7 linked regions of the Homo sapiens genome follow. The protein of the gene in region 1 purifies or fractionates together with the protein of each later gene. This does not show direct contact. Each region holds a gene or a part of one and is shown in the gene's direction. Other genes may lie near its edges.

Region 1 (4,742 bases):
CAGGCTGGAGTGCAGTGGTGCTGTCTCAGCTCACTGCAACCTCCACCTCCCAGGTTCAAGCAATTCTCCTGCCTCAGCCTCCCGAGTAGCTGGGAGTACAGGCATGCACCAACATACCTGGCTCATTTTTGTATTTATTTATCTATTTATTTAGAGATGGAATTTCGCTCTTGTTGCCCAGGCTGGAGTGCAATGGCATGATCTTGGCTCACTGCAACCTCCACCTCCCAGGTTTAAGTGATTCTCCTGCCTCTGCCTCCCGAGTAGCTGGAACTGCAGGCACACATCACCATGCCCAATTTTTATATTTTTAGTGGAGATGGGGTTTCACCATGTTCGCCAGGCAGGTCTCAAACTCCTGACCTCAGGTGATCCGCCTGCCTCGGCCTCCCAAAGTGCTGGGATTACAGGCGTGAGCCACCATGCCCAGCCTATTTATTTATTTATTATTATTATTTTTTGAGATGGAGTCTTGCTCTGTTGCGCAGGATGGAGTGCAGTGACGCAATCTCGGCTCACTGCAACCTCCGCCTGACGGTTTCAAGCGATTCTCCTGCCTCAGCCTCCTGAGTTGCTGGGACTACAGGCACGTGCCACCATGCCTGGCTAATTTTTTGTATTTTTAGTAGAGACAGGGTTTCACTGTGTTAGCCAGGATGGTCTCGATCTCCTGACCTCATGATCCGCCCGCCTCGGCCTCCCGAAATGCTGGGATTACAGGCATGAGCCACCGCGCCCAGCCTATTATTTATTGAGAGACGGAGTCTCACTCTGTCGCCCAGGCTGGCGTGCAGTGTCACGATCTTGACTTACTGCAGTGTCCGCCTCCTGGGTTCAAGCTGTTCTCCTGCCTCAGCCTCCTGAGTAGCTGGGATTACAGACGTGGGAGACCATTCGGGCTAATTTTTGTAGAGACGGGGTTTCACTATGTTGGCCAGGCTGGTCTCGAACTCCTGACCTCAATTGATTCACCCACCTTGGCCTCCCAAGGTGTTGGGATTACAGGCGTGAGCCACCGCACCTGGCCTCCCTGACTCTGTGTGTGTGTGTGTGTGTGTGTGTGTGTGTGTGTGTGTGTGAGAGAGAGAGAGAGAGAGAGAGAGAGAGAGAGAGAGATAAATGGGATGGAAAACGTCTCGGGGGTAATCAAGCCTTTTTTTTTTTTTTTAATTTTTTAAAGAATGGGCGTCACCACCCGTTTTTTCTTCTCCCGCAGAGATCATCGACGAGTACATCAAGGAGAACGGCTTCGGCCTGGACGGGGGACAGCCGGGCCCGGGCGAGGGGCTGCCACGCCTGGTGTCTCGCGGGGCTGCGTCCCTGAGCACGGTCACCCTGGGCCCTGTGGCGCCCCCAGCCACGCCGCCGCCTTGGGGCTGCCCCCTGGGCCGACTAGTGTCCCCAGCGCCGGGCCCGGGCCCGCAGCCGCACCTGGTCATCACGGAGCAGCCCAAGCAGCGCGGCATGCGCTTCCGCTACGAGTGCGAGGGCCGCTCGGCCGGCAGCATCCTTGGGGAGAGCAGCACCGAGGCCAGCAAGACGCTGCCCGCCATCGAGGTGGGCCCGGCGAGCGGCCCCGGGCGGGTGGGACTGGGGCTTCCCCTGCACCCCGGAGCCATCCACATGCATTTATACGTTTATTTGATGGTGGCTGTTGTTGTTATTGTTGGACCAGATATTAATTATACTATCACCTGGCCTGGAATCCAAAAGGTTCAGAAAAAAGGAGGGGTCGGACATTTGGCTGGGCACGGTGACTCGCGCCTGTAATCCCAGTACTTTGGGAGTCTGAGGCGGGCGGATCCCTTGATGTCAGGAGTTCGAGACCAGCCTGGCCAACATGGTGAAACCCCATCTGTACTAAAAGTACACAAATTAGCCGAGTGTGGTGGCACAATCCCAGCTATTTAGGAGGCCGAGGTGGGAGGATTAGCTGAGCCCAGGGAGGTGCAGGCTGCTGTGAGCTGAGATTGCACCATTGCATAGCAGTCTGGGTAACAGAGTGAGACCTTGTCTCAAAAAAAAAGAAAAAAAAAAAAGAAGGCAGATCGTGGTGCGGTGGCTCAGGCTTGTAATTCTAGCACTTTGGGAGGTCGAGGCGAGCGGATCACTCGAGCTCAGGAGTTCTAGATGAGCCTGGGCAAGACGGCAAAACCCCATCTCTACAAAAAATACAAAAATTAGCCAGGTGTGGTGGCACATGGCTGTAGTCCTAGCTACATGGTAGGGCTGAGGTGGGAGGATCGCTTGAGCCTAGGAGGTCAAGGCTACAGTGAGCCAAGATCGCACCACTGCACTCCAGCCTGAGCAACAGAGCAATACCCTGCCTCCATTAAAAAACAAACAAATATATATAACACTGGAAGTAAAAAAAGCAAAGGTGATTACTTTTGGCAGGGTATTAATGTATTAATAAGGTACAGGTAAGTTTTATTTTTTTGAGACGGAGTCTTGGTCTGTTGCCCAGGCTGGAGTGCAGTGGTGTGATCTCGCCTCACTGCAACCTCCACCTCCCGGGTTCAAGCGATTCTCCTGCCTCAGCCTCCCGAGTAGCTGGGATTACAGGTCCACCACCACGCCTGGCTAATTTTTGTATTTCTTAGTAGAGAAGGGGTTTTGCCATGTTGGCCAGGCTGGTCTCAAACCCCTGACCTCAAGTGATCCGCATGCCTTGGCCTTCCAGAGTGCTGGGATTGCAGGTGTGAGCCACTGTGCCTGGCCTCTTTGGTGTCTGTTAATCTGGATCTGTTCTTCAATCTGTCTTTGTGTTTCGTGAGTTGAACATTTGTGCAGAACAGGACGGATGTTTTGTAGAATGTCCCACATTCTGAAGCTGGTCGTGGTGGCTCATGCCTGTAATCCTAGCACTTTGGGAGGCCGAGGCAGGCGGATCACCTGAGGTCGGGAGTTCGAGACCACCCTGACCAACATGGAGAAACCCCATGTCTACTGAAAATACAAAATTAGTGCGGCGTGGTGGTGCATGCCTGTAATCCCAGCTACTCGGGAGGCTGAGGCAGAAGAATCACTTGAATCCGGGAGGCAGAGGCTGCGGTGAGCCAAGATCGTGCCATTGCTCTCCGGCCTGAGCGACAAGAGCAAAACTCCTTCTAAAAAAAAGAAAAAGAAAAAGAAAAAAAGAATATCCCACATTCTGGGTTTGTTGGCTGTTTCCAGATTAGGTCAGATTATGCATTTTTGGCAGAAACACTCCAGCAGTGATGCTGTGGCCTTCTCAGTGTCTCACATCAAGGGACGTGGGATGTCGTTATTCCCAATATTGGTGATGCTGAGTTGGATCCTCCAGCTAATGTGGTGACTATCAGGTCTCTCCATGATAAAGATACAACTTTCCCTTTGTAATGAATTGGTAAGTTATCTATGGGATGATATACTGAGATGTATCATCCCATGTTTAACTGTATTCCCCAACTTCTAATTTCTAAGGCTTTTTTTTTTTTTTTTTTGGAGACAGGGTCTCTCTCTGTCACAGAGGCTGGAGTAAAGTGGCACAAGCACGGCTCACTGCAGCCTCCACCTCCCAGGCTCAAGAGACCCTCCCACCTCAGCCTCCTGAGTTGCTGGGACTACAGGTGCATGCCACCGTGCCTGGCTAATTTTTGTATTTTTTTGAAGAGTTGGCATCTCACCATGTTGTCCAGGCTGGTCTTGAACTTCTGGCCTCAAGCAATCCTCCCACTTTGGCCTCCCAAAGTGTTGGAATTACATGTGTGAGCCACCGCACCGGCCTAATTTCTAAGTCTTCCCAGGCAGTTATTCTGGCTCAGAGTTTTTTTTTGTTTTTTGGTTTTTTTTTTGATGGAATCTTGCTCTGTCACCCAGGCTGGAGTGCAATGGTGCAATCTCAGCTCACAGCAACCTCCACCTCCTGGGTTCAAGCGATTCTCCTGCCTCAGCCTCCCAAGTAGCTGGGATTACAGGCACGCGCCATGATGTCCGGCTAATATTTTGTACTTTTAGTAGAGATGGGGTTTCACCATGTTGGCCAGGCTGGTCTTGAACTTCTGACCCCAAGTGATCTGTCTGCCTCAGCCTCCCAAAGTGCTGGGATTACAGGTGTGAGCCACCGTGCTCGGACCCCAGAGTTGGTTTTGATTTCCAAGATTTAGAATGGTAAATGCCTAACCATAGGGAATGACCTGTCTCCAAATCTGGATTCAGGATTTTTTTTTTTTTTTTTGAGACGGAGTCTTGCTCTGTTGCCCAGGCTGGAGTGCAGTGGTGTGATCTCAGCTCACTGCAACTTCCGCCTCCTGGGTTCAAGCGATTCTCCTGTCTTAGCCTCCCAAGTAGCTGGGATTACAGGTGTGCACCACCATGCCCAGCTAATTTTTGTATTTTTAGTAGAGACAGGGTTTCACCACATTGGCCAGGCTGATGTCAAACTCCTGCCCTCAGGTAATCCACCTGCCTCGGCCTCCCAAAGTGCTGGGATTACAGGCATGAGCCAGCATGCCTGGCTTGGATTCAGGATGTTTATCCCCATCTTCAGAGTAGGAAACTGAGGTTAAAAGAGGGGCAGTTACCTGCACAGGGCACACAGCAAGTTTACTATTGTAATTACCGCCATTTACTGAGTGCTTCCATGTACCAGGTACTTTGCATACCTATTTTACACATAAAGACAGTAAGACCCGAGAGGTTTATCTTGTAGATGGCCAGTGGTAGAGCCTGGATTTGGTGCCAGGTCGGACTTATTCTAAAGCCTAATGGGCCAGGCA
Region 2 (2,563 bases), on another chromosome or scaffold:
AGTCTAGGGTAATTACCCCCAATGAGTCTAGCCTACTATTCACTGCTTTGTGTGCATTTTTTTCTCCCTCTTTAAAAAACCCTTTAAAAGAAAAAAAAAAGTAGATAGTGCTAAATATTTTAGCTCATGAAACTTGGTTAGGATGGCTGGGGGTACAAGTCCCCAAACTACCTCTTGTTACAGTAGCCAGGGAGTGGAATTTCGTCAACCGGTACTTTTAAGGTTAGGATGGGACGGGAAAAGTGAAGCAGGATATTAGCTCCTTATACCTTCTCCCTTCCATTTCTGAGATCTCACATTCCATCTATCACAGGGTTTTCAAAGAGATGCTGAGGGTAACAAGGAACTCACTTGGCAGTCAGAGCATCATGCTTTGAGGTTTGGGGTGCTCAGGCTGGGAGGGTAGAATGCCATTCCAGAGGACAAGCCACAAAAATGCCTTAATTTGAGCTCGTATTTACCCCTGCTGATAAGTGACTTGAGAGTTCCCGGTTTTTTCCTCTTGTCCTTCCCTCCCTTCTGTCCTTCCATGTGTGGGGAAAGGGTGTTTTTGGTAGAGCTTGGTTTCCAAAGCGCCTGGCTTTCTCACTTCACATTCTCAAGTGGCAGTTTCATTATTTAGAATGCAAGGTGGACATCTTTTGGATATCTTTTTCTATATATTTTCTAAAGCTTTACATATGAGAGGGTATAGGGAGGTGTTTATAAAACACTTGAGAACTTTTTTCCTTAATATCAGAAAGCAAAAAAATAAAACCACAATTGAGATTTGCCTTTCAAACCCTCAGGTTTGCCTCTAACCAGGTGTCCCTGGTCACCATCAGAGTACTGGAATACGGGAACCGAGGAGACCTTGGTCCTTTTGTTTTTGTTCTGGACTCTTGGGAGTGGAAATGAGAATGAGTTTATTCCTACTGGAGCTTAGTTCCAATGCATTTGGCTCCAGAAAGACCCCAGTGCCTTTTGACAATGGCCAGGGTTTTACCTACTTCCTGCCAGTCTTTCCCAAAGGAAACTCATTCCAAATACTTCTTTTTTCCCCTGGAGTCCGAGAAGGAAAATGGAATTCTGGTTCATACTGTGGTCCCTTGTAACCTCAGGTCTTTAATGTGATCACTTTCAAATTTAAAAGATCCAGGTGGAAATATTTTTACTATAGTAATAATTCTACAAAATACCTGAATTCTTAACACTGTTATATTTCAGTATAAGTGGTGGCTTTTTCTTTTCATGTCTTTGATCTGGTTTTATTCCTGTAATTCAGCCACCTGATTTTGTGAGGGGGGGGAATAATATGTGGTTTTTGTACAAACATGTTTCTCAGTGTGTTGTTATTTTGGAAAAAATGAGGGGAGGGAGTTTGGCAAGAATGGAGAAAATGAATGAAGAAGGCCTAATCTCTCTCTTTTTCAGTGAATAAATGGAACACCATTTCTGGATTCTAGTCCCATTCTCTGCATTCATACACCAGTTTCTTCATATATCCTATGAAGAACCTAAACATTTGGCCCCACCTGGTCTTGGTTTGATCAGCAGTTAAAATTCTGTGACTCGGGCTTCCTTCCCGACTGCCCACCTTCATGATGTGTAAGGAACATACATTTTGAGGGTACCTCACCCACTGTTCATTTGCATGGTCAAAGTGAAAATGAGTGGAAGTTCTCCAAAAATGATGGCCAACATCCTGGCACCTCCAGGTGTGAGAAATAGCTTTGCTTGGTGAATGGGATAATGTTTGTCAGGATGCAGTTTAGACAGTCCCAAGTTGGAGGCAGGCCTTGAGGGCAGAAGATTCTGTGAACCTTGGGGGACAGCTTTTGGGTACTCACAGATATAAACCCTGTGCAGAAAAAAAGAAGTGATTGTTTTCAGGATGCTTATAAATCGAGTGAAGCAAAAGAAGAGGATTCTGTGTCTGCCATGAGATGAACGCCCTGCTCTTCACGAAGGTGTGCCTCTAATAAAGAGAGCCAAAGCCAGCTGGGTCTCACCAGATTCCTATACTTTCTCAAGGATGTTGGGGGAGGTTAATCCTTTATCGAAACTAAAGACTGGTTTATAAACTTGTGTGTGAATTATTTTTAGAATATTGGAGGACATGCAAGATCAACCAGTCTTACATAGGTTCCCTGGGTCCTTACCATGGAGTAATTCCCCCACATTCAATTAAGAATAGTTTAGGCTGGGTGCAGTGGCTCACGCCTGTAATCCCAGCACTTGCATTTTGGGAGGCCGAGGTGGGCTGATACCTGAGGTCAGGAGTTTAAGACCAGCCTGGCCAACATGGTGAAACCCTGTCTCTAGTAAAAACAAAAAATTAGCCAGGCATGGTGGCACGCACCTGTAATCCCAGCTGCTCAGGAGGCAGAAGTTGCAGTGAGCTGAGATCACGCCACTGCACTCCAGCCTGGGTGATAGCGAGACTCCATCTCAAAAAATTAAGTTTATTTTTTTAGAGGTGGGGTTTTGCTCTGTCACCCAGGCTAGAGTACAGTGGCACGATCATAACTCACTGCAGCCTCAACCTCCTGGACTCTAGTGATCTTCCCACCTTAGCCTCCCA
Region 3 (4,152 bases), on another chromosome or scaffold:
CCAGAGCGGGGCCTGTGTGTGGGGGTTTCATTGGATGGAACTACTATATTTAGCTTTTTTTTTTTTTTTTTGAGACAGAGTCTGGCTCTGTCAACCCAGGCTGAAGTGCAGTGGTACAATCTCGGCTCAGTGCAACCTCTGCCTCCCAGGATCAAGCTGTTCTCCTGCCTAAGTCTCCTGAGTAGCTGGGATTATAGGCACCCACTACCATGCCTGGCTAATTTTTATATTTTTAGTAGAAACAGGTTTTGCCACGTTGGCCAGGCTGGTCTCGAACTCCTGACTAAAGATGATCCACCCGCCTTGGCCTTCCAAAGTGCTGGGATTACAGGCGTGAGCCACCACACCTGGCCTATATTTAGCTCTTTAAGTATACCTTCCTCCTCCCTCCTCCACACTCAAACCCTTCTTGCCAACCTGGCCACCAATCTCCTGAGCAGACTCCTACCCCAGAGCCTTGGCCTGTGCTGTTCCTTCTCCAGGAATGTTGTTCCCAGTGATCTACAGGACTTCACTCCTTACGATGCTCAGGTCTCCGATCAAATGTGACCTCATCAGAGAGACCTCCTCTGACTACCCTGTTAAAAATCACCCTTCCCCACCATCCCTCTCCATCCCCTCTCTGCTCTTTTCTTCCTAGCCAAGCATTACTTTCTAGCTCAGCGATGCCACTTGATGTGATGTCCTGTATCCACTTTTGTGTTATTTGTCATCTTCGTTAGAGTCAACTCCTCGAGGGTGAAGACTTAAGTTCACTGTGTGTTGCTTCTACCTGTTTATAATAGTGTTGAGTGTTCGGTTGATGCTCAGTAGACACTTGCAGAATAAACAAAAAGAGAACCAAAACCACACTCCCTAGTCTCAGAAATAAGAGCAGCATGTCCGTGGAGCAGAAATGGAACAGAAATACAAAATAGTTCCAAAGGGTTAAACAAGCAATCAATAAATACTGGGGAGTGAATGAATGACTAAAATACGAAGAGAGGAAACTAGAAGGATAGAGGTGGGCTCTAAAATAAGACTAGCATCTCATGGAACAGAAATCAAACAAAAATACAAAAAATAGTATGAGCACATATACAAAAGATAGTAAGCACTTGACGAGTGAGTGAAAGGATTTTAACAGGAACAGAGCAAACTAGAATACTAGATGGGCTAATAGTAAGAGCAGTGTTTCTGTGAGCCAGACATGGCACGTGAGAGGCAGTACAAAGGGCGCACAGTAGGTGCTCAGAAAAAGTCTGTTTTGGCTGGGCATTGTGGCTCATGCCTGTCATCCGAGTACCTTGGGAGGCCGACACGGGTGGATCACCTGAGGTCAGGAATTCAAGGCCAGCCTGGCCAACATGGTGAAACCCTGTCTCTATTAAAAATACACAAATTAGCAGGGCATGGTGGTGCATGCCTGTAATTCCAGCTACTCGGGAGGCTGAGGCAGGAGAATCGCTTGAACCCAGGAGGTGGAGGCTGCAGTGATCCGAGATCGCGCCACTGTACTCCAGCCTGGGCAACAGAGCGATTCTCTGTCTCAAAAAAAAAAAAAAGAAAAAGTCCGTTTGCTGACTCGGGCTCTGTCTGTAGGTACTGCCCTTCCTGCAAGCAGCACCAGCTGGCAACCAAGAAGCTGGACCTGTGGATGCTGCCGGAGATTCTCATCATCCACCTGAAACGCTTTTCCTACACCAAGTTCTCCCGAGAGAAGCTGGACACCCTCGTGGAGTTTCCTATCCGGTCAGGGGCCAGGGAGAGGATGGCTGGGGGAAGGCAGGGAAAGGAGGGGGTGTACCAGTATTAACCCTCTCCCCACCCACAGGGACCTGGACTTCTCTGAGTTTGTCATCCAGCCACAGAATGAGTCGAATCCGGAGCTGTACAAATATGACCTCATCGCGGTTTCCAACCATTATGGGGGCATGCGTGATGGACACTGTATGTGCCAGGCTGTGGGTGGGGCCTGCCCTGGGGGTTCTGGGCAGGGGGGCGATCAGGACCTTCCCAGTGAGTGACTAGGGATGTGAGCCAGTGGTGAGGTTATCGTGGTGGGAGGAGTGACAAGAGTGAATCTGGACACTTCTGAGAGGCAGGAAGGGTAGGCGAGGATAACTCTCCTTCCCTTTCAGACACAACATTTGCCTGCAACAAGGACAGCGGCCAGTGGCACTACTTTGATGACAACAGCGTCTCCCCTGTCAATGAGAATCAGATCGAGGTGTGACTTCCATCCTACCTCCTCCCCTTCTTCCTTTCTGATTCCACCTCCCCACCCCCACAATCCACACTGACTCCTGTCCTCTCCCCACAGTCCAAGGCAGCCTATGTCCTCTTCTACCAACGCCAGGACGTGGCGCGACGCCTGCTGTCCCCGGCCGGCTCATCTGGCGCCCCAGCCTCCCCTGCCTGCAGCTCCCCACCCAGCTCTGAGTTCATGGATGTTAATTGAGAGCCCTGGGTCCTGCCACAGAAAAAAAAAAAAAAAAGCCCTCTCTGCAATCTCGCTTCTCGTGTCCGCCCCGCTTCTCTTATTCGTGTTAGGTGCCCCCGCCAGGCATTGCAGGCTTAGTCGTGGCTACTGTTCTCCTGTGCCGCTGCATCGCTCTCTCCCGGGAAAGAACAGGTCGTGTCTCCTCCTAGCAGTGCGCGCCCCGCCTGTGTTTGCCCTTCCAGCAGTGACCCTCCCTTCTAGTCTTTATTTATGGTCGTGCCCTTCCCTCTCCTCAGCCCAGAGTGTTCTGCGTGGGTGGTGATGGGGGTTCACCTGAACACAGAGTGTATTTTCTTATTGAGGCCCTGTACCTTCTGCTGTGTGTGTGTATATATAAAGCACCAGTCTGCTCCCCACTCAGCAGTGTGGTTTTTTCCTCCATGGACTTAACTAAGCACCAGTTTTGTGCCTGTGTTCTGTGTTCTTATCAAAGGCCAGATGTGTGATGGGTGCAGCTCTGAGTGGTTAGTGAGCACCAGCTGTGGGCTGGGTACTGCTGTTCTAAGTGCTTTGAAAGCACCCTCTGTGTGCCAGGCACGATTCCAAGCACCAATGGCATGCCCAGTTTTTTCCAAAATATTTTCCAAATATTGATACGTAATCCTCACAACAATCTCATGCAAGAGTTGTCATCTCCAGTTTCGGATGGGGATACTGAGGTACAGAGGTCACAGAATTGCTCAGGGCTTGTCAGGAGGTCAGTATACCTCATGTGCTACCCGAGTCGGTCCCTGGAGTGGGTGCTTGGCTTGTCTGGACCCAGGACTGCTACTCAATCTGCAGACATGAGCTGCCCTACAGGCAATGTGGAAATGGAGCACGTGGGACGGATGCATCCATGTGGGCAAATTTGTGGTTTGGGGACATAAAAATACTCCTCTCAGGCCAGGTGCCACCTGTTATCTCAACACTTTGGGAGGCCAAGGCAGGAGGATCACTTGGGCCCTGGATGTTGAGGTTGCAGTGATCTATGATCGTGCCACTGCACTCCAGTCTGGGCCACAGAGCAAGACCCCATCTCAAAAAAAGGATGCTATTCCCCAGACCACCTCACAGACCCCCAGTAGTGTCCTCTGAGAAGATTTTGTCCCCCTGAGACCTCCTTTGGAGATGGTACATGCATTTGGCAGACCAGCCAACCTGCCAGGACAAATGTGCTGTCTGTGTGTGGCCCCTGTAGTCAGCCCCCTCTCCCATCATGACCCCAGCTCCCACACCAGGCAGGTTCCCTCCAACCTCACCCCAGACGACACTGAACACCTGCCGCAGGAATTTGGACATAAATAAGCCATCCAACCCTTCACACTGATGGGTGAGGGGAATCCTGATCGGTGGCAGCTGAGAGGCCATTCTCATGGCCAGGGCCTCAACACTCCCCCCAGCCTTCTGCCTTTGCACTGGGTCTGGGCAGACCCACTGTGAGGGTCACTCAGCCCCAGCATCGCCACCCGCAAACCTCCCAGTCACTCTGCTGACACAGGCAGAAGTCAAGGCAGTTGCTGTGAGGAGCCCAGCTCAAACTGACTTAGCAAAAGTAAGAACAGAAATACTAGTTTCAGGTATGACTGGATCCAGGAACTCAGAAGCTGTCATCGAAGGCTCGTGAAGACCATATGACTGAAGCACTACAATCACCCCATTTTGCAGATAAGGAAGCAGGCATAAAGAGC
Region 4 (4,742 bases), on another chromosome or scaffold:
TTTGTATTTTTTTGTTTTTGTTTCTTTGAGACAGAGTTTTGCTCTGTCGCCCAGGCTAGCGTGCAGTGGTGCGATCTCCGCTCACTGCAAGCTCCATCTCCCGGGTTCACGCCATTCTCCTGCCTCAGCCTCCTAAGTAGCTGGGACTACAGGCGCCCGCACCCTGTCTGGCTAATTTTTTGTATTTTTAGTAGAGACGGTGTTTCAACATGTTAGCCAGGATGGTCTCGATCTCCTGACCTCGTGATCCACCCGCCTCAGCCTCCCAAAGTGCTGGGATTACAGGCGTGAGCCACTGCCCGGCCTGTTTTTGTATTTTTAGTAGAGGCGGGGTTTCACCATGTTGGCCAGGCTAGTCTTGAACTCATGACCTCGTGATATGCCTGCCTTGGTCTCCAGAAGTGCTGGGATTACAAGCGTGAGCCACCAGGCCCTTCCCGTTTTTGGTTTATTTCTGCCTTTTTTGGTATTCTCTATGTTTTTGTATTTGTCACCAGCTTTGTTCAGGACTTTCCTTCTGAAATATTTACAGTAGCCTCCTAATTTATCATATCCTTCTTTATGCCATATACTATTTTCCTGAAATTTTTCCTGAAGTACTGCTTTAGACCTGTGTTTTCGCTCCTTAAAATCCATACTCCAAATTGCTTGAACCTGGGAGGTGGAGGTTGCAGTGAGCCAAGATCATGCCATTGCACTCCAGCCTGTGCAACAAGAGTGAAACTCCGTCTCAAGGAAAAAAATAAAAATAAAATAAATCCATACTCCAGCTGGGCATGGTGGTTCATGCCTGTAATTCCAACACTTTGGGAAGCTGAAATGGGAGGATCACTGGAGGCCAGGAGTTTGAGCCCAGCCTAGGCAACATAGGAAGACCTCGTCTCTATAAAAAGTAAAGTTAGCTGGGTGTGGTGGCGCCGGCCTTTAGTCCTAGGTATTCAGGGGGCTGAGACAGAAGAATCACTTGAGCCCGGGATTTTGAGGCTGCAGTGAGCTGTGATTGCACCACTGCACCCCATGCTGGGTGACAGTGAGACCCTGTCTCTAAGAAATCCCTACTCTATGAAGGCCTTCCATAAAGTAGACTTAACTTAGATTTTCAAATTTATCTTTCATCTGGGCCCTTTCCTACATGTTTTTCTCACAATATGCTTCCTTTTTTTTTTGTTTTGAGACAAAACCTTGGTTTGTTGCCCAGGCTGGAGTGCAGTGGTACGATCTTGGCTGACTGCAGCCTCCGTCTCCTGGGTTCAAGTGACTCTCCTGCCTCAGCCTCCCAAGTAGCTGGGATCACAGGGGATCACCACGATGTCTAGCTAATTTTTGCATTTTTAGTAGACACGGGGATTCACCGTGTTTCCCAGTCTGGTCTCGAACTCCTGACCTCAGGTGATCCACCCGCCTCGGCCTCCCAAAGTGCTGGGATTACAGGCGCGAGCCACTTCGCCCAGCCAAACATAAACCATTTATATTTGCAGCAACACTTAACCGTGGAAATATGTAGATTATAAAATTAGATATGAAAATCCTCGGCCGGGTGTGGTGGCTCACACCTGTAATCCCATTACTTTGGGAGGCCGAGGCAGGTGGATCACCTGAGGTCGGGAGTTTGAGACCAGCCTGACCAACATGGAGAAACTCCATCTCTACTAAAAATACAAAATTAGCTGGGCATCGTGGCGCATGCCTGTAATCCCAGCTACTCAGGAGGCTGTGGCAGGAGAATCGCTTGAACCCGGGAGGTGGAGGCGGTGGTGAGCCGAGATCACGCCATTGCACTCCAGCCTGGGCAAGAAGAGCAAAACTCTGTCTCCAAAAAAAAAAGTCGGGCATGGTAGCTCATGCCTGTAATTCCAGCACTTTGGGAGGCTGAGGCAGGTGGATCACCTGAGGTTGGCAGTTCGAGACCAGCCTGACCAACATGGAGAAACCCCGTCTCTACTAAAAATACAAAAAAAAAAAATTAGCCAGGCATGGTGGCGCATGCCTATAATCTCAGGTACTTGGGAGGCTGAGGCAGGAGAATCGCTTGAACCCAGGAGGCGGAGGTGGTGGTGAGCCAAGATCATGCCACTGCACTCCAGCCTGGGGATTGAGTGAAACTCCGTCTCAAAAAAAAAAAGAAAAGAAAATCCTCAGAACGTTGCCTATGACTTCATGTCTTTCTCCCTCAAAGTATATCTGAATGCAAGTGATTGAGACTAACGTAGAAATAATCTTCAGTCTGCTCTGATTCTTGATTTTTGAGACAAGGTCTTGTATGGCGACAGGCAAACACCACCATGCCTGGATATTTTTTTTTTTTTTTTTTTTTTGTTGGGAGGTCTCACTGTGTTGCTCAGGCTGGTCTCACCTGAGCTCAAGCCATCCTCCCTCCTGAGCCTCCCAAAGTGCTAGGCTTACAGGTGTGAGCCACCATGCCTGTCCTTCTCGTTCATTTTTTAAAATTGTTCAAAGCTGCCTTTTTTAGCGACAAAACACTTGGATACTCCATAACTTGAGACTCCAGTGAGTCCATGACAACAAGTTTGGAAACTGTTCTACATATAAAATAATGAATATTTAACAGGCAAAATTAAATGTAGGGCTAAATATTTAGTAGCTGGCTATAAGCCTAACGATGTTTACACTTGCCTTCACAAGTAAGTGTGGATTTTATTGTTTGTATTTAATCTTAATGATAATGTGCAAACTTTCACTTTTCTTCTAGGGCACTGTAAATTGGTCTGTTGATGACATTGTCAAAGGCATAAATAGCAGCAATGTGGAAAATCAGCTCCAAGCTACTCAAGCTGCCAGGTAAGTCTTGTCTGCGATAGCATGGGTAGCCTAAGAAATTTGTGTTTTTAGATTTTTTTTTGGGGGGTGGGGCAGGAAGGGACAGACAGATAGTACAAGGAAAGATTAGGCCAGCCAGCCATAAGCCAAATAGTATTTTTTATTTATTAATTTTTTTGAGAGGGGAGGCCTTGCTATTTTGCCCAGGCTGGCCTGGAATGCCTGGGTTCAAGCAGTCCTCTGACCTCAGCCTCCTGAAGTGCTGGGATCACAGGTGTGTGCCATTGCACCTGCCCATAAAGTTTTTACCAAAGTAATGTTTCAAGTCACTGGCAGGGGAAGGAAGAAATAAATAGTAAGTGGGATTGAGACATGCATTTAGAATGATAGATCCATTTAGGAGATAAGTATAATTTGACCTTTACCTCCCACTATACGTGGATATTTATGATATAATAGAAAGGATTAATAAGTTCTATAGCTTGACAGTGTGCAGAAGAAAAATTTCAATGGTAAATTATCATTAAAAAGTTCTAGGCTGGGTGCTGTGGCTCATTCCTGTAATCCCAGCACTTTGGGAGGCCAAGGGGTCGGTTACTTGAGCCCAGGAGTTTGAGACCAGCCTGGGCAACATGGTGAGAGCCAGTTTCTACAAAAGAAATTATTAGCTGGGTGTGGTGGCACATGCCTGTAATCTCACGTGTTTGGGAGGCTCAGGCACAATAATCACTTGAACCCAGCAGGCGGAGGTTGCAGTGAGCTGAGATCTTGCCACTGCATTCCAGCATGGCGACAGAGCAAGACTCTGTCTCAAAAAATAAATAAATAAAATAACTTGGGTGTGGCGGTGCACACTTGTCGTCCCAGCTACTAAGGAGGCTGAGGTGGGAGGATCACTTGAGCCCAGGAGGTCGAGGCTGCAGTGAGCTGTGATCGTGGCACTGCACTCTAGCCTGAGTGGAGTGAGATCCTATTTCAAAAAAACAAAATGTGCTTAACCACAACTATCAGAACAAATTCAGTGAGAGTATAACCCTGTCAGAATGTGAAAAGTTTTTTTAAAAAGTGACAAGATCTGGAGTAGATTTCTGCAGGGATGGAAAGGAGGGTAATCTACATTAATTTCTGGAAAAATGGTAGTTAATTATACCGCATACATAGCACCATACAAGTAATCTGTTCAGCTTCTCTTAGGTTCCAGAATGTCTCAGCATTTAGTGATTTACTTAAAAGGTTGTCTGAAGTTCTAAACTCTTGAATTGCATTTTATATTGGTTTTTACACAAACTCCTTTTGTTAATCACTGTCAACTTTTATTTCTCTTTTTGTTCCCCTTTAGGAAACTACTTTCCAGAGAAAAACAGCCCCCCATAGACAACATAATCCGGGCTGGTTTGATTCCGAAATTTGTGTCCTTCTTGGGCAGAACTGATTGTAGTCCCATTCAGTTTGAATCTGCTTGGGCACTCACTAACATTGCTTCTGGGACATCAGAACAAACCAAGGCTGTGGTAGATGGAGGTGCCATCCCAGCATTCATTTCTCTGTTGGCATCTCCCCATGCTCACATCAGTGAACAAGCTGTCTGGGCTCTAGGAAACATTGCAGGTACTTGGACTTGAAGTTCTTTTGACTGAATGTATCTAATCGTAATTAGTTGGAAGAAAGGCCTTGTTATAAGTAATAGTGACTTTGTCAAGTTTTGAGCTTGCTTTCAAGCCCTTATTAGGAATGAAAGTGTCGTCTTTACAAAGGCAGCAGAGGGCCATCTAAGTAAGTTTGGGAGTTTTTGCTGGTGCATTCAGTCACTGAAAATTGATGGTGTTGGACAAGGTAATAAAATTAATCTTGCCTCGGCCGGGCATGGTGGCTCACGCCTGTAATCCCAGCACTTTGGGAGGCAGAGGCGGGTGGATCATGAGGTCAGGAGATTGAGACCATCCTGGCTAACACAGTGAAACCCC
Region 5 (3,685 bases), on another chromosome or scaffold:
GAGGGAGTTGGTGGATGCAGATCAGCAGCCCTCACCCTCACTCTCACCCCATCCCAGGTCTGGCTTGTCTCCACATTGCCACCCTTCAGAAGAACCAACCACTCATGGAATTGCTGCTTCGGAATGGAGCTGACATTGATGTGCAGGTGAGACAGCCAGCAAAGCACTGCCCGGCCCAGGGCCTGCCCCCACCTGACACATCCCCAAGTCCCCTGCCCAGCAGTCAGAAGTGGTGGCATTCACTTCCTTATCCAGAGCCCAGGCCCAGCACACTGCCTCTGAGGGCCTTGGCTGACATCCTTATTCCTCCCCAGGAGGGCACCAGTGGTAAGACAGCGCTGCACCTGGCTGTGGAAACCCAAGAGCGGGGCCTGGTACAGTTCCTGCTCCAGGCTGGTGCCCAGGTAGATGCCCGCATGCTGAACGGGTGCACACCCCTGCACCTGGCAGCTGGCCGGGGTCTCATGGGCATCTCATCCACTCTGTGCAAGGCGGGTGCTGACTCCCTGCTGCGGAATGTGGAGGATGAGACGCCCCAGGACCTGACTGAGGAAGTAAGTGGCATATGCTTTGCTCTCCAGGGCCTTGCACACCCATAGCAGAGAGAGGTTCTGTCATTAGCTGAAAGGGCCAGGGAGCCAGGAGTCCTGGGGTATAACCAGGACTCTGCCACTGACCAACTGTGGGAACTTGAGCCTGTTTCCTTAGTTGGTCCAAGGAGCCAAATTTGGACTCTTACAGGGACCCTGCAGTTAAAGTGAATCAGTGAAGTTGGCCAGATATGAGACCATGGTGTGGTGAGGCCTATAAGAACCCAGAGAGCCATCCCTGAGGGTCTCTGTACTCAGCTTCAGCAAAGGCTTACAAAGCAGGAGTGTAGGCCCAGTTTTTCCTGGTCTTGGACTTTCTTGAGAGGTGAAACTCAGATTTTCTGTACAGTCTTTCCTATTTTTAAATGTTCAGTGTAAAAAAGAAACCTAAATGTTCTGCGAGTACCCAGCAGCCCCCCCACCCCATCCCCCAACAACAACAAACAACTCCAGGTCCATGGGCTGGATCACCTCTAAGGGTCCCTCCTAACTCGGATATTCTGGCATTATCTTAGAAAAGGAAGGCTTGTCTAAGTCCTCAGGGCTCTGCCAAGCCCAGAGGGGCCACTATTTTGAGGATTCGTGTGAAGATTTGTTCCCTGATGGTCTTCAACTGTCATTTGGTGGGGAGGGAGTGGCCCAACAGGTTTCCCTGGGTCCCCTTTCCCAAGTCACCTTTTCCCATGTCCTCTGATCTTGCTTCTCTCCATTCTCCTTCTCAGTCCCTTGTCCTTTTGCCCTTTGATGACCTGAAGATCTCAGGGAAACTGCTGCTGTGTACCGACTGAAGCCAGGCAGGGTCTGGGATCCTCAGGGCTCCACCTCTCCATCTGGAAGCCGGAGCCATAACTGCTGCAGTTTGGGCCCAGGCTATGTGCTCTTCTGGTGCCCTAGGGACTGCTGTGGCCAGAGCCTGGGGCCAGCCAGTACAGTCCTGAGCCGAGGAGGAGGGACTGCAAGTGGAAGAGAGCCAGTCTGGAAGGAAGAGCTTTCCAGGTGGACAGGGCTTCTTGGAAGACCCCCAAAGCCCCAGGTATCCTGGGTGAAGCCTGTTTGCCTCTCTTGAAAATGGCAGGTGCTCTTGTTTTACCCATGTTGGGTCAGCCTGAAACTGCCAACCAGTAGGAAGCATGGACTCTCCTGAGTGAGAAGAGACTGAAATAGGAGCAAGCAGAACCCTGAGAGGTGTCCCATCTTATTGCTGTTGAGGACCCTGAAACACCGTTGTTTAAAGACTTCACACAGAAGGCTCTGAACTGAGCCACTGGGGAAGGGAAGTTTCAGTAACATGACACTAAAATGGCAGAGACGTTAAAAAAAGTTTTTCCCTTCTAGAGCTGTTTTGCGCGCATGCATGTCTGTGTGCATTGGGGCTTTTTAGACAGGCCTGCCCTGTGACTTTGTGGTAGAGGCAGAGAGAAGGAAATTGTCCCCTGAGCACGGTAGGGCCTTGCTGGGTGGGGTCAGAGGCCAGTAGTTCCAGGCCTTTCTCTGTGTCCAGCACAGACCCTTGTCCTTGCTGTGGAAATGATGAGGGATGGAGGGACAAGAGGAAGAATGAGAGGACACACGCCCTGGAGCCCTCACCACTGCCCTGGGGGTTGCCATCTGGAGGAGCCTGGGGATAAGGGTAACCCAGGGAGGCTGGGCACGAGGGAGCTGACTCCACGTTTTTCCCCCCGTTCCTCACCTTCGAGGGCCCTGCTAGGTCACCCCTATGCTGGCATGAAGAGCATGGGGCAATAAACCAGCACAGTCTCTGACCACTTGGAGCGTCTCATCCAGTGAGAGAGACAGCCGTTAAAAGCATAAACATCCAAATAAAGATGCCTTTCCAAGTTGCAGTGGGTGCTATGAAGGGAAAAGAATAGTGGGAAGGAAAAGGATGGAGTCGGTAGAGGGTCATACTTTGGGTGGTCCGGGAACCCTCGCCTGAGGAGTATCATCTCAACTGGGATGTAAGGATGAGTAAAGGGATGGGGGCAGAGCATTAGGGGGAAAGCCTGTGAATTAGAGGAACTGAGAGCAAGCCAGTGGGGCTTCACAGCGGGCGAGTGAGTGGGCGAGGAACGCGGGCGAGGCCATGTAGAGCCTCGAAGATCATGGGAAGTGGGACAGAATTACTACCCAGCCAACAAAGCAAGGAGACACCTTCATCCTGTCAGAAAACGGGGAAACTAACACAGAGGAGCGGCTTGGGATGCAGAGCCTCAATGTCCTGTCCACAAGATGGCAATGGTCACCATGACCTCTGGGACGCTTATGAAGGGCGATGACGAAGCACAGGGGACACGCCGGGCGGGCGCCTCTTCAGGGCTGGGGCTCCCCGCGCCCAGGGGCAGCCCAGGTCCCCGGAACCCAAGCCGCGTCTGCCTCCGGGCCGCGCGGGGGCGCTGTGGTCCGGCGGCGGCCCGGGGCGCTGCGTGGTCGCGGCAGGGGCGGAGGGGGCCGCGGGGAGGGAGGCGGGAAGAGCGCGGCACTTCCGCTGGCCGCTGGCTCGCTGGCCGCTCCTGGAGGCGGCGGCGGGAGCGCAGGGGGCGCGCGGCCCGGGGACTCGCATTCCCCGGTTCCCCCTCCACCCCACGCGGCCTGGACCATGGACGCCAGGTGGGGGCTAGGGCAGCAGCGAGCTCACGTGACCGAGCCCCCGGGCCACGTGACTGCCGCGCCTCAGCACGGGGGCCGGGTGGGGTCCCGGCTGCTCGGCCGTCGGCCAGCATATCGCTGCCCGGAGCCAGCGGGGATGGGAGCTGCGGCTTGGTTTTGTGCTCCTTGGGGAGCTTCGGGCGGAGGGGCTGGGGACCCTGACGTCCCGGATCGTGGAGGGGAGTGTGGGGGAAGGGGCGCTTCCTCTGACCTGAGCAGCCGGCTAGCGTTGGAGGGAACAGAGGAGACCTGTGTGGCCAGAGGGGCGGATCCGCCCCCGGGGAGGGAGGAAGCTCTGCCTGGCCAGCGCCGGCGCACCCCCTCCCCGAGAGAGAGAGAGAGAGAGAGGCTCTTTGTCCGGGCCGGAGCTGCAGCGGAGGGGGCGGGGAGGAGACTCCGGGCACTACTCCAGTGTGGTCCCCTCTGGAGGGCGGAGGGGATGAGGAGCT
Region 6 (4,742 bases), on another chromosome or scaffold:
AGTGGCTAGTCTTTGCCACTTTTGTGCAGAAAAGTACAGAAAGCAAGTTTCTTTTTGTTCACTGTTTTCTTATGTAAGCAAGAAAATACTCTCTTTCTGTCTCTTTTTTTCTTTCTGTCTTTCTCTCTTTCTGTCTCTCCATCTTTCCGTCTTTCTTTCTCTCCGTCTCTCCATCTCTCCTTCTCTCCGTCTCTCCTTCCCTCTGTCTCTCCTTCCCTCCGTCTCTCCTTCCCTCCTTCCCTCCGTCTCTCCGTCTCTCCCTCCCTCCCTCCTTCCCTCCTTCTCTTGCTTCCTCCCTCCCTCCCTCCCTCCCTCTCTCCTCCCTCCCTCCTTTCCCTCCCTCCCTTCCTTCCTTCCTTCCTTCCTTCCTTCCTTCCTTCCCTCCTTCCCTCCCTCCCTCCCTCCCTCCTTCCCTCCTTCCCTCCTTCCCTCCTTCCCTCCTTCCCTCCTTCCGTCTGTCCCTGTCACCCAGGCTGGAGTGCATTGGCTCAATCTCGGCTCACTGCAACCTTGGCCTGTCAGGTTCAAGCAGTTCTCATGCCTCAGCCTCTCAAGCAGCTGGGATTACAGGCGCCTGCCACCACACCCGGCTAATTTTGTATTTTTAGTAGAGATGGAGTTTCACTGTGTTGCACTCCATACTGGGTGACAGAGCGAGATTCTGTATCAAAAAACAAAAACAAACAAAAATGAATTAGTTCTTTCCTTTAATAAACCGAATACCTTCTGTTTGTTGTACACTTTAGGATATTATTTATCTTCCTCCCCCAATCCTACAACTGTTTCATTTGACTCCCTGATGAACGTGTTATTGTGATATACTGGCATCTGAAAGAATTATGAGGGAATTAAACTATGTAACCTTTATTAATGAATGATTCTTTCACAGGCAGTCTGGGCTCTTGGCAACATTGCTGGAGATAGTACCATGTGCAGGGACTATGTCTTAGACTGCAATATCCTTCCCCCTCTTTTGCAGTAAGTTTCTTCTTCCTTCTTCCTTTTTTTTTCTTTTTGAGAATAAAAATGTAAGAGATTCCTCAGAAAGCATTACATGTTTGGAAATCATTTTGGATTTTCTAGTGTTATTTTTAATTCCAGATATTTTCTTGTTTAGATCATTTCCTCAAGCACCCTATCTTTTTCCATGCCAAAATTCTGAATTCTGAATTACTTGCATCAGAATTAATGAAGTTTTAATGTTCTGGAGAAAAGCTATCTGAAGACATCTCTTTATCAAAAGTATTATTATTTAGTATTTATGTCATCAGATAATCACTGTCTGTTACATAGTTTACCATTGTACCATCGTGCTTTTAGGTTATTTTCAAAGCAAAACCGCCTGACCATGACCCGGAATGCAGTATGGGCTTTGTCTAATCTCTGTAGAGGGAAAAGTCCACCTCCAGAATTTGCAAAGGTAAGGACTATGCTTTTGGGACATTGGCAGAAAAAATACAATTAAAAGAGTATTGCAACCAATGGTAAGGTGAACAGGAAGATAATTTTTGTTAAAATTTAAAATGTTAGAATTTTATCTGTTTTTGGAGAAACAGGGTTGTTGTTGTTTTTGTTGGTTCTCTTTATTATTTAAAAAGCAAATTTAGAGCATAGCTTGAAGGTGCACATTTACGATGGGACTGCAAATAAAGCATAGCATGAAGGAAGAATTTGTAAAGCTTATTGAAATTAGGCTTCATACAATTAGTATACTGTTTAGGAGACTATCCTTTCAGTTCTCTTAAAACAGTGGTTCTCAAAGTGTGGTCTGTGAGTTCTCTGGGAGTCCATGAGATTCTTTTTTTTTTTCCAATAGGTTTTTGGGGAACAGGTGGTGTTTAGGTACATGAGTTACTTGTTTAGTGGTGATTTCTGAGATTTTGGTGCACCCAACACCCAAGCAGTGTACGCTGTACCCAGTGTGTAGTCCTTTATCTCTCACCCACCTCCGACCCTTTCTCCCTGAGTCCCCAAAGTACATTGTATCATTCTTACGCTTTTGCGTCCTCATAGCTTAGCTCCCACTTATGAATGAGAACATCTGATGTTTGGTTTTCCAGTCCTGAGTGACTTTATCTACTTGTTGATTGATGGGCATTTGGGCTGGTTCCATGTGTTTGCAATTGTGAATTGTGCTGCTATAAACCTGCGTATACAAGTATCTTTTTCTTATAATGACCTCTTTTCCTCTGGGTAGATACCCAGGAATGGGACTGGTGCATCAAATGGTAGATATACTTTTAGTTCTTTAAGGAATCTCCACACTGTTTTCCATAGTGGTTATACTGGTTTACATTCCCAGCAACAGTGTAAAAGTGTTCCCTTTTCACCACATTCATGCCAACATCTATTTTTTGTTTTTTGGTTTTTTGAGACGGAGTTTTGCTCTTGTTGCCCAGGCTGAAGTGCAGTGGCGCGGTCTCGGCACACTGCAACCTCTGCCTCCTAGGTTCAAGTGATTCTCCTGCCTCAGCCTCCCGAGTAGCTGGGATTACAGGCGCATACCACCACACCCGGCTAATTTTTGTATTTTTAGTAGAGACGGGGTTTCACCATGTTGGCCAGGTTGGTCTTGAACTCCAGACCTCAGGTGATCCACCCACCTCAGCCTCCCAAAGTGCTGGGATTACAGGCGTGAGCCACCACGCCCAGCTGCATTTTTTAATATGTTTGTTGGCTATTTGTATATCTTCTTTTGAGAATTGTCTGTTCATGTCCTTAGCCCACTTTTTGATGGGATTTTTTTTTCTTGCTGATTTGAATTTCTTGCAGATTCTGGATATTAAAATAAATGGGTATTTTTGTAGTTGTTTTTAATTTGGAATCATTTTTCACTGAACAAAACCTTAGCATTTTTGGTCTTTAACAAAGTATCTAAAATACAGAATTTCCTAGTTTTCACATTTGTGAAAGTTCCTTTACCTGTTTAGTCCACAAAGAATGTGTTTTGATAGGGAGTCTTACTCCAAGAATTGATGTATATAAAACTTTGCTCTCTGAAATTATTTTCCTTGGGCTTTGACTACAGATTAGTGCAAGATCACTGACAACATTGCCAAAGATGGAAATGCCACTTAGGTACTTGCTGCTTCATCTTTAGAAGTGTAAATCACCCTAGAAGTCACCAAGTACATGCCTGGTTGCCTTCTTGAGTATCTCACCTCACTTCTGGCTTTTAGTCTATTGAATTTCATAATCATCATTTTCCTTTTACAGGTTTCTCCATGTCTGAATGTGCTTTCCTGGTTGCTGTTTGTCAGTGACACTGATGTACTGGCTGATGCCTGCTGGGCCCTCTCATATCTATCAGATGGACCCAATGATAAAATTCAAGCGGTCATCGATGCGGGAGTATGTAGGAGACTTGTGGAACTGCTGATGTAAGATATCTTTTAGAAAGTGTGTCCACTTTCTCTCCCTTGGTACTAGTTTTCTAGCTGCTAATACTTAAATATTAATGGATTGTACATGATAATTGATTTATTGTGCTTTGGGCTACTGTTTTTGTTACTTGTTTATTTTGATGTCAGATCTGTTTGTCTTGTTTTATTGAGGCTTATAGAGAACCTCTTAGTCCTCTGCTGTTAGCAGGCCTTTAGCAGAAACATTGGGAAAACTCTGATATGTGTAGTTCCAGGCTCATACTGGATGGCCTGAGATCAACCACCGGACATCAGAAGGCATACTGCCACTAAAATAGTCATTCCTTATCTGTCTGTCTCATTTAGAGCTTATTTTAGACAAGTATCAGAAATTCAATCTTATTTTGCTTTATCATCTCCGTGATGCTTTTGATAATGGAGTGGAAGATTTACTCGTGACATAAATAATTTGAGACTGTATTAATCAAATTTTTAGATACTACAGAAGAAAAAAATGAAAGTGATAACATAATGGAGAAATGGTACAGTTACAAGGTATGGGAGATTTAAAGTACAAAGTAGATGCAAAGAGACATTGTCGCAAACATGACATTTGGAATATATTAGATAGTTATAATGTATTAATACAAAATAGAAAACTCTGGGATTATAGCAGGCTACAGACTGGATGCAGATCAGTAATGTAGTGCTAATGTGAATTAATGGCAGTATGATGCTGCAGGAGTCTGAAGTACATCATTCAAAATCTGGGAAGTAATCCTTTGTATTCTTTAGTCACTAGACTACTATATATTTTAGCCATTTCTTTTTTTTTTTTCTTTTTTAAAAATTATACTTTAAGTCCTAGGGTAAATGTACACAACATGCAGGTTTGTTACATAGGTATACATGTGCCATGTTGATTTGCTGCACCAATTAACTCGTCATTTACATTAGGTATTTCTCTTAATGCTATCCCTCCCCCTGCCCCCAACTCCACGACAGGCCCCAGTGTGTGATGTTCCCCGCCCTGTGTCCAAGTGTTCTCATTGTTCAATTCCCACCTGTGAGTGAGAACATGCAGTGTTTGGTTTTCTGTCCTTGTGATAGTTTACTCAGAATGATCGTTTCCAGCTTCATCCACGTCCCTGCAAAGGATATGAACTCATCCTTTTTTATGGCTGCATAGTATTCCGTGGTGTATATGTACCACATTTTCTTAATCCAGTCTATCACTGATGGACATTTGGGTTGGTTCCAAGTCTTTGCTATTGTGAATAGTGCCGCAATAAACATGGATGTGTCTTTGTAGTAGCATGATTTATAATCCTCTGGGTATATACCCAGTAGTGGGATGGCTGGGTCAAATGGTATTTCTAG
Region 7 (4,742 bases), on another chromosome or scaffold:
GTGAATTTTGTAATTTTTGAAATTTGGGTTATTTTCCACCATCCCTATCCCTGATCAGGGCATTATTGGCTTGGCCTAGTCTCCAGTTTACCATTCTTTTTGTCTTAGTAATATTTTGTGCAACAAATTATTTCAGAGTACCTGGGATCAGTCCACAGGTCTCTCATGGCATGGTTAAAAGGGGACTTGAGATTTGGATTTGTGCAGGCTTGTGTTCAAATCCTGGCTTTGCCATTGGATGGCTCTGTGATCTTGGGCAACATTCATGAGTCTTGGTTCCTTCATCTCTAGATGGGATTAGTAAACCTACCTTGTAGAGTTTCCTTAATGGTACCTGAGGTAATCCAGTAAAGTGTTAGCACAAGGTGGTGCTTTCTGTGTGTTGGTTTCTTTCACTCCCCTCTTCCAGGCCACATGATGCAATGGCACAAGGGTTAAAGAATTTCAGCTTTGAGGCCGGGCGTGGTGGCTCACGCCTGTAATCTCAGCACTTTGGGAGGCCGAGGCGGGCAGATCACCTGAGGTCTGGAGTTGGAGACCAGCCTGACCAACATGGAGAAACCCCGTCTCTACTAAAAATACAAAATTAGCCGGGTGTGGTGGCTCATGCCTGTAATGCCAGCTACTCAGGAGGCTGAGACAGGAGAATTGCTTGAACCTGGGAGGCAGAGGTTGCAGTGAGCCAAGATCGCGCCATTGCACTCCAGCCTGGGCAACAAGAGTGAAACTCCATCTCAAAAAAAAAAAAAAAAAAGGGAGATCAATTCAGCATGGGATTTTGTGAAAGGATTATTAGATTATTAAGTGATGAGAGAATTTACAGTGGAACCTTGACATGCTTTTTCCGTATCTTGATTTTGTAGATCAAATGTTTCCTAGATTTCAAAGCGGGAGGCTCCTTGTGCCACATTCTTGCAGCTGCCTACAAATTCAAGAGTGACCAGGGATGGTGAGATGATTCTCTCTATTCTTCTTATATTTAGTTTAGAGGAAATCCCCCTTTTTGATTCCCTGGGATCTTTCTGGGGTAGAAATTCTTGTGAGTCTCTTTATTTTGCTGGGTCAGTAGACCTGACTTACTACGTCAGGAAGATGGTTGGGAGTCAGAGCCAAAACAGTCTCCAAGAGTGAGTGTGTGAGTATCACTGTGTGTTTTGTAGAGGAAAAGGGATTCTTAGGTTGGCATCTCAAACCTTTTTTTGTCCCTTTGAAGTAAGCACAGAGAGTGATTCATGGAGTTGAGATCAGTGAACCTCAGATCCCAGGTGATGTTTGGCAATAGCTGTGAGCAAGCTTGCCTCCTAATTTCCCATATTAAGAAGTCATGGCTGGGCGCAGTGGCTCACACCTGTAATCCCAGCACTTTGGGAGGCCGAGGTGGGTGGATCATTTGAGGTCAGGAGTTTGAGACCAGCCTGGCCAACTTGGCAAAACCCCATCTCTACTAAAATACAAAAATTAGCCGGGCATGGTGGCGGGCACCTGTAGTCTCAGCTACTTGGGAGGCTGAGGCAGGAGAATGGCTTGCACATAGGAGGCAGAGGTTGCAGCTGGCCAAGATCGCGCCAGTGCACTCCAGCCTGGGCAACAGAGCGGGACTCCCTCTCAAGAAAAAAAAAAAGGCCGGGTGTGGTGGCTCATGCCTGTAATCCCAGCACTTTGGGAGGCCGAGGCAGGTGGATCACCTGAGGTCAGGAGTTCAAGACCAGTTTGACCAATATGGTGAAACCTCGTCTCTACTTACTAAAAATACAAAAATTAGCCACGTGAGGTGGTGTGTGCCTATAGTCCCAGCTACTGGGGAGGCTGAGACAGGAGAATTGCTTGAACCTGGGAGGCAGAGGTTGCAGTGAGCCGGGATCGCGCCACTGCACTCCAGCCTAGGTGACAGAGCAAGACTCCATCTCAAAAAACAAACAAAAAAGTCACGTGCCCTCACCTCATCTGCAGACCTGAGCTATACCACTCACTAGATTATTGCCTCTTCACAAGGCGGCGTTACGATTTCCAGAATCCATCACGCATGGACCGCAATGTGGAAATGTTTATGACCATTGAGAAGTCCTTGGTGCAGGTAATAGGCATATACCCTATTTATCTCCCTTCCCTCAGTGAGAATCTAAAACACCCCTTTCCTATAATCTCATTCTATTTCTTCTCTCCACAGAATAATTGCCTGTCTCGACCTAACATTTTTCTGTGCCCAGAAATTGAGCCCAAACTACTAGGGAAATTAAAGGACATTATCAAGAGACACCAGGTAAATGGTCTGGTGAGGAGAGGTTTCAGAAACTCCATGACTGTTTTCCCAGTGTTTTCTATACCAAGCAGCAGCCCTGAATTACCATGTTTTCTGCTTCAGAGGTGGCTCTGTCTACTTGGAAAAAGACTTGAGTTAAAGCCTTGAGTCTGTCTTTTTCTGTCTGCTTCTCCCATTTTTCAGTCCTGACAGGTTTGCATTACTGTTCTAGAGACTATGTTGGCCTGGGGAAAAATAGTATCCACTTCTACTGAGCTAGAGATTGCGTGATCTCAGATAAATGAAATTCCTGCTCTTTGGAACTTTATAGTAATGAATAGATGTCATTGATAAGGATGTACAGTGGACTTTAAATTTCCCATGTATAGATTATCTGTTCAGAAGATTATTTTTGGCAATTTTTAATTCTTTGACTTTTCTCCATTATTAGCACAATCCCAGCTGTTTCCCTCTGCCACTTAGCTGGTGTGTGCTTAGAGAATACAAACTAACTTTAATACTATTATAAGCAAAATATGGTTAGGAAGGCAGCTCTGTGGCTAAACCTTGAGTAATTCAGAGGGGACCATAATTTACCCGCTTCTCCTTTTACCATCCAGGGAACAGTCACTGAGGATAAGAACAATGCCTCCCATGTTGTGTATCCTGTCCCGGGGAATCTAGAAGAAGGTGAGACCTGGGTTTTCCTGTCCACTTGAGTGGATGGTTTGGACTAGGAGGCAGAGGACTAAGATCACCATTCAGTACCTGGGCTCCTCCTCTTCTTTCAATCTTGAATCCTCTTACCACCTTAAGTTCCTATTACCAAGTCCCCTGCTACAACAGGAGAGTGCATTAGTTAGGGCTTTTGTACAGTATTTTTTTTGTGTCCCCCTTTAGCTTATATCTCTCCCTTCTCTTCCTCTATCCCCAGAGGAATGGGTACGACCAGTCATGAAGAGGGATAAGCAGGTTCTTCTGCACTGGGGCTACTATCCTGACAGGTGAGGATGGGTTCCTGGGGCAGGTTTAAGTATAAGAGCCAGACCCAGAAGCCCTAGGACATCTAGCAGAGCAAGAGGCCACTCTTTCAGAGTTATTTTTAGATCACTTAATTTGTTTTCCTCTCACCTAGTAAGTGAACCTCTGTCTTGGGGGAGGTTTGGACTTAGTGGACAAGCCTTGGGCTAAAAGGATTGAGGCTTTATGTGTGAATTGATTATCCCAGCATCATTTTCGATAAGTAAATGTTAGAAACAATCTAAATGTCTAACAGTAGGAAAATGTTTCAGTAAATTTGTATATCTACTCAGTGGACTATTATGCAGTCTTTAAAGTGATATAACATGGATAATTTATAAGTGAATATTATTAATAATTGCAAAAAGTAGCATGTAGGCCTGGCATGGTGGCTCACGCCTGTAGTCCCAGCACTTTGGGAGGCCAAGGCAGGCGGATCACCTGAGGTTAGGAGTTCGAGACCAGCCTGGCCAACATGCTGAAACCCCGTCTCTACTAAAAATACAAAAAAAAAAAAAAAATTAGCAGGGCGTGGTGGCACACGCCTGTAGTTTTAGCTACTTAGGAGGCTGAGAAGCAGGATAATCGCTTGAACCGGGGCAGCAGAGGTTGCAGTGAGCCAAGATCACACCACTGCACTCTAGCCTGGGCGACAGAGCGAGACTCTGTCTCAACAAAACAAAACAAAACAAAAAATAGCACGTAGGCTGGGTGCAGTGGCTAATGCCTATAATCCCAGCACTTGGGGAGGCTGAGGTGGGCAGATTGCTTGAGCCCAGGAGTTTGAGACCAGCCTAGGCAACATGGTGAAACCCTGTCTTTACAAAAAAAAAAAATACAGAAATTAGCTGGGCATGGTGGCATGCACCTGTAGTCCTAGCTACTTGGGGGGCTGAGGTGGGAGGATTGCTTGAGCCCAGGAGGTTGAGTCTGCATTGTGCCATGATTGCACCACTGCACTTCAACCTGGGCAATAGAGCAAGACCCTGTCTCAAAAAAAAAAAGCATGTAAAATATCATCTAGTATGGTTATGATTATGTAAAAACATCATCTAGTATGGTTATGATTATGTAAAAAGAAAATTGTGGACCAGGCACAGTAGCTCACTCCTATAATACTAGCACTTTGGGAAGCCAAGGCAGGAGGATCACTAAAGGCTGGAAGTTCAAGACCAGCCTAGGCAGCAAAGTGAGACCCTGTCTTAACAAAAACAAAAACCCCAGCTGGACGCGGTGTCTCATGCCTGTAATCCCAGCACTTTGAGAGGCCGAGGTGGGTGGATCACGAGGTCAGGAGCTTGAGACCAGCCTGGCCAAGATGGTGAAACCCCGTCTGTACTAAAAATATAAAAATTAGCCGGGCGCAGTGGCAGGCACCTGTAATCCCAGCTACTCGGGAGGCTGAGGCAGGAGAATCGCTTGAACCCGGGAGGCGGAGGTTGCAGTGAGCCGAGATCGCGCCACTGCACTCCAACCTGGGTGA

The links.
Region 2: the proteins of RELB (region 1) and SMARCC1 purify together in Homo sapiens (affinity purification with mass spectrometry; 2 studies listed by BioGRID and IntAct, with this or other methods). This does not show direct contact.
Region 3: the proteins of RELB (region 1) and USP11 purify together in Homo sapiens (affinity purification with mass spectrometry, with the first as the bait; 2 studies listed by BioGRID). This does not show direct contact.
Region 4: the proteins of RELB (region 1) and KPNA2 purify together in Homo sapiens (affinity purification with mass spectrometry; 2 studies listed by BioGRID and IntAct, with this or other methods). This does not show direct contact.
Region 5: the proteins of RELB (region 1) and NFKBIE purify together in Homo sapiens (affinity purification with mass spectrometry; 4 studies listed by BioGRID and IntAct, with this or other methods). This does not show direct contact.
Region 6: the proteins of RELB (region 1) and KPNA1 purify together in Homo sapiens (affinity purification with mass spectrometry; 2 studies listed by BioGRID and IntAct, with this or other methods). This does not show direct contact.
Region 7: the proteins of RELB (region 1) and SMARCC2 purify together in Homo sapiens (affinity purification with mass spectrometry; 2 studies listed by BioGRID and IntAct, with this or other methods). This does not show direct contact.

The regions. Positions count from the first base shown.
Region 1 is NC_000019.10:45,010,720-45,015,461, forward strand, and holds part of RELB (transcription factor RelB), read left to right. Parts: intron 1-1,216; coding exon 1,217-1,557; intron 1,558-4,742.
Region 2 is NC_000003.12:47,584,769-47,587,331, reverse strand, and holds the end of SMARCC1 (SWI/SNF complex subunit SMARCC1), read left to right. Parts: 3' UTR 1-2,063; downstream 2,064-2,563. UniProt on the Homo sapiens protein: Involved in transcriptional activation and repression of select genes by chromatin remodeling (alteration of DNA-nucleosome topology).
Region 3 is NC_000023.11:47,245,491-47,249,642, forward strand, and holds the end of USP11 (ubiquitin carboxyl-terminal hydrolase 11), read left to right. Parts: intron 1-1,581; coding exon 1,582-1,731; intron 1,732-1,813; coding exon 1,814-1,929; intron 1,930-2,120; coding exon 2,121-2,209; intron 2,210-2,302; coding exon 2,303-2,440; 3' UTR 2,441-2,838; downstream 2,839-4,152.
Region 4 is NC_000017.11:68,037,968-68,042,709, forward strand, and holds part of KPNA2 (importin subunit alpha-1), read left to right. Parts: intron 1-2,710; coding exon 2,711-2,799; intron 2,800-4,117; coding exon 4,118-4,386; intron 4,387-4,742.
Region 5 is NC_000006.12:44,256,912-44,260,596, reverse strand, and holds the end of NFKBIE (NF-kappa-B inhibitor epsilon), read left to right. Parts: intron 1-57; coding exon 58-146; intron 147-314; coding exon 315-554; intron 555-1,312; coding exon 1,313-1,378; 3' UTR 1,379-2,431; downstream 2,432-3,685. Other genes in the region: SLC35B2 (adenosine 3'-phospho 5'-phosphosulfate transporter 1), read left to right, coding at 3,187-3,197. UniProt on the Homo sapiens protein: Sequesters NF-kappa-B transcription factor complexes in the cytoplasm, thereby inhibiting their activity. Sequestered complexes include NFKB1-RELA (p50-p65) and NFKB1-REL (p50-c-Rel) complexes.
Region 6 is NC_000003.12:122,448,212-122,452,953, reverse strand, and holds part of KPNA1 (importin subunit alpha-5), read left to right. Parts: intron 1-889; coding exon 890-978; intron 979-1,320; coding exon 1,321-1,420; intron 1,421-3,216; coding exon 3,217-3,380; intron 3,381-4,742. UniProt on the Homo sapiens protein: Functions in nuclear protein import as an adapter protein for nuclear receptor KPNB1. Binds specifically and directly to substrates containing either a simple or bipartite NLS motif.
Region 7 is NC_000012.12:56,182,362-56,187,103, reverse strand, and holds part of SMARCC2 (SWI/SNF complex subunit SMARCC2), read left to right. Parts: intron 1-863; coding exon 864-949; intron 950-1,992; coding exon 1,993-2,074; intron 2,075-2,167; coding exon 2,168-2,260; intron 2,261-2,859; coding exon 2,860-2,929; intron 2,930-3,173; coding exon 3,174-3,243; intron 3,244-4,742. UniProt on the Homo sapiens protein: Involved in transcriptional activation and repression of select genes by chromatin remodeling (alteration of DNA-nucleosome topology).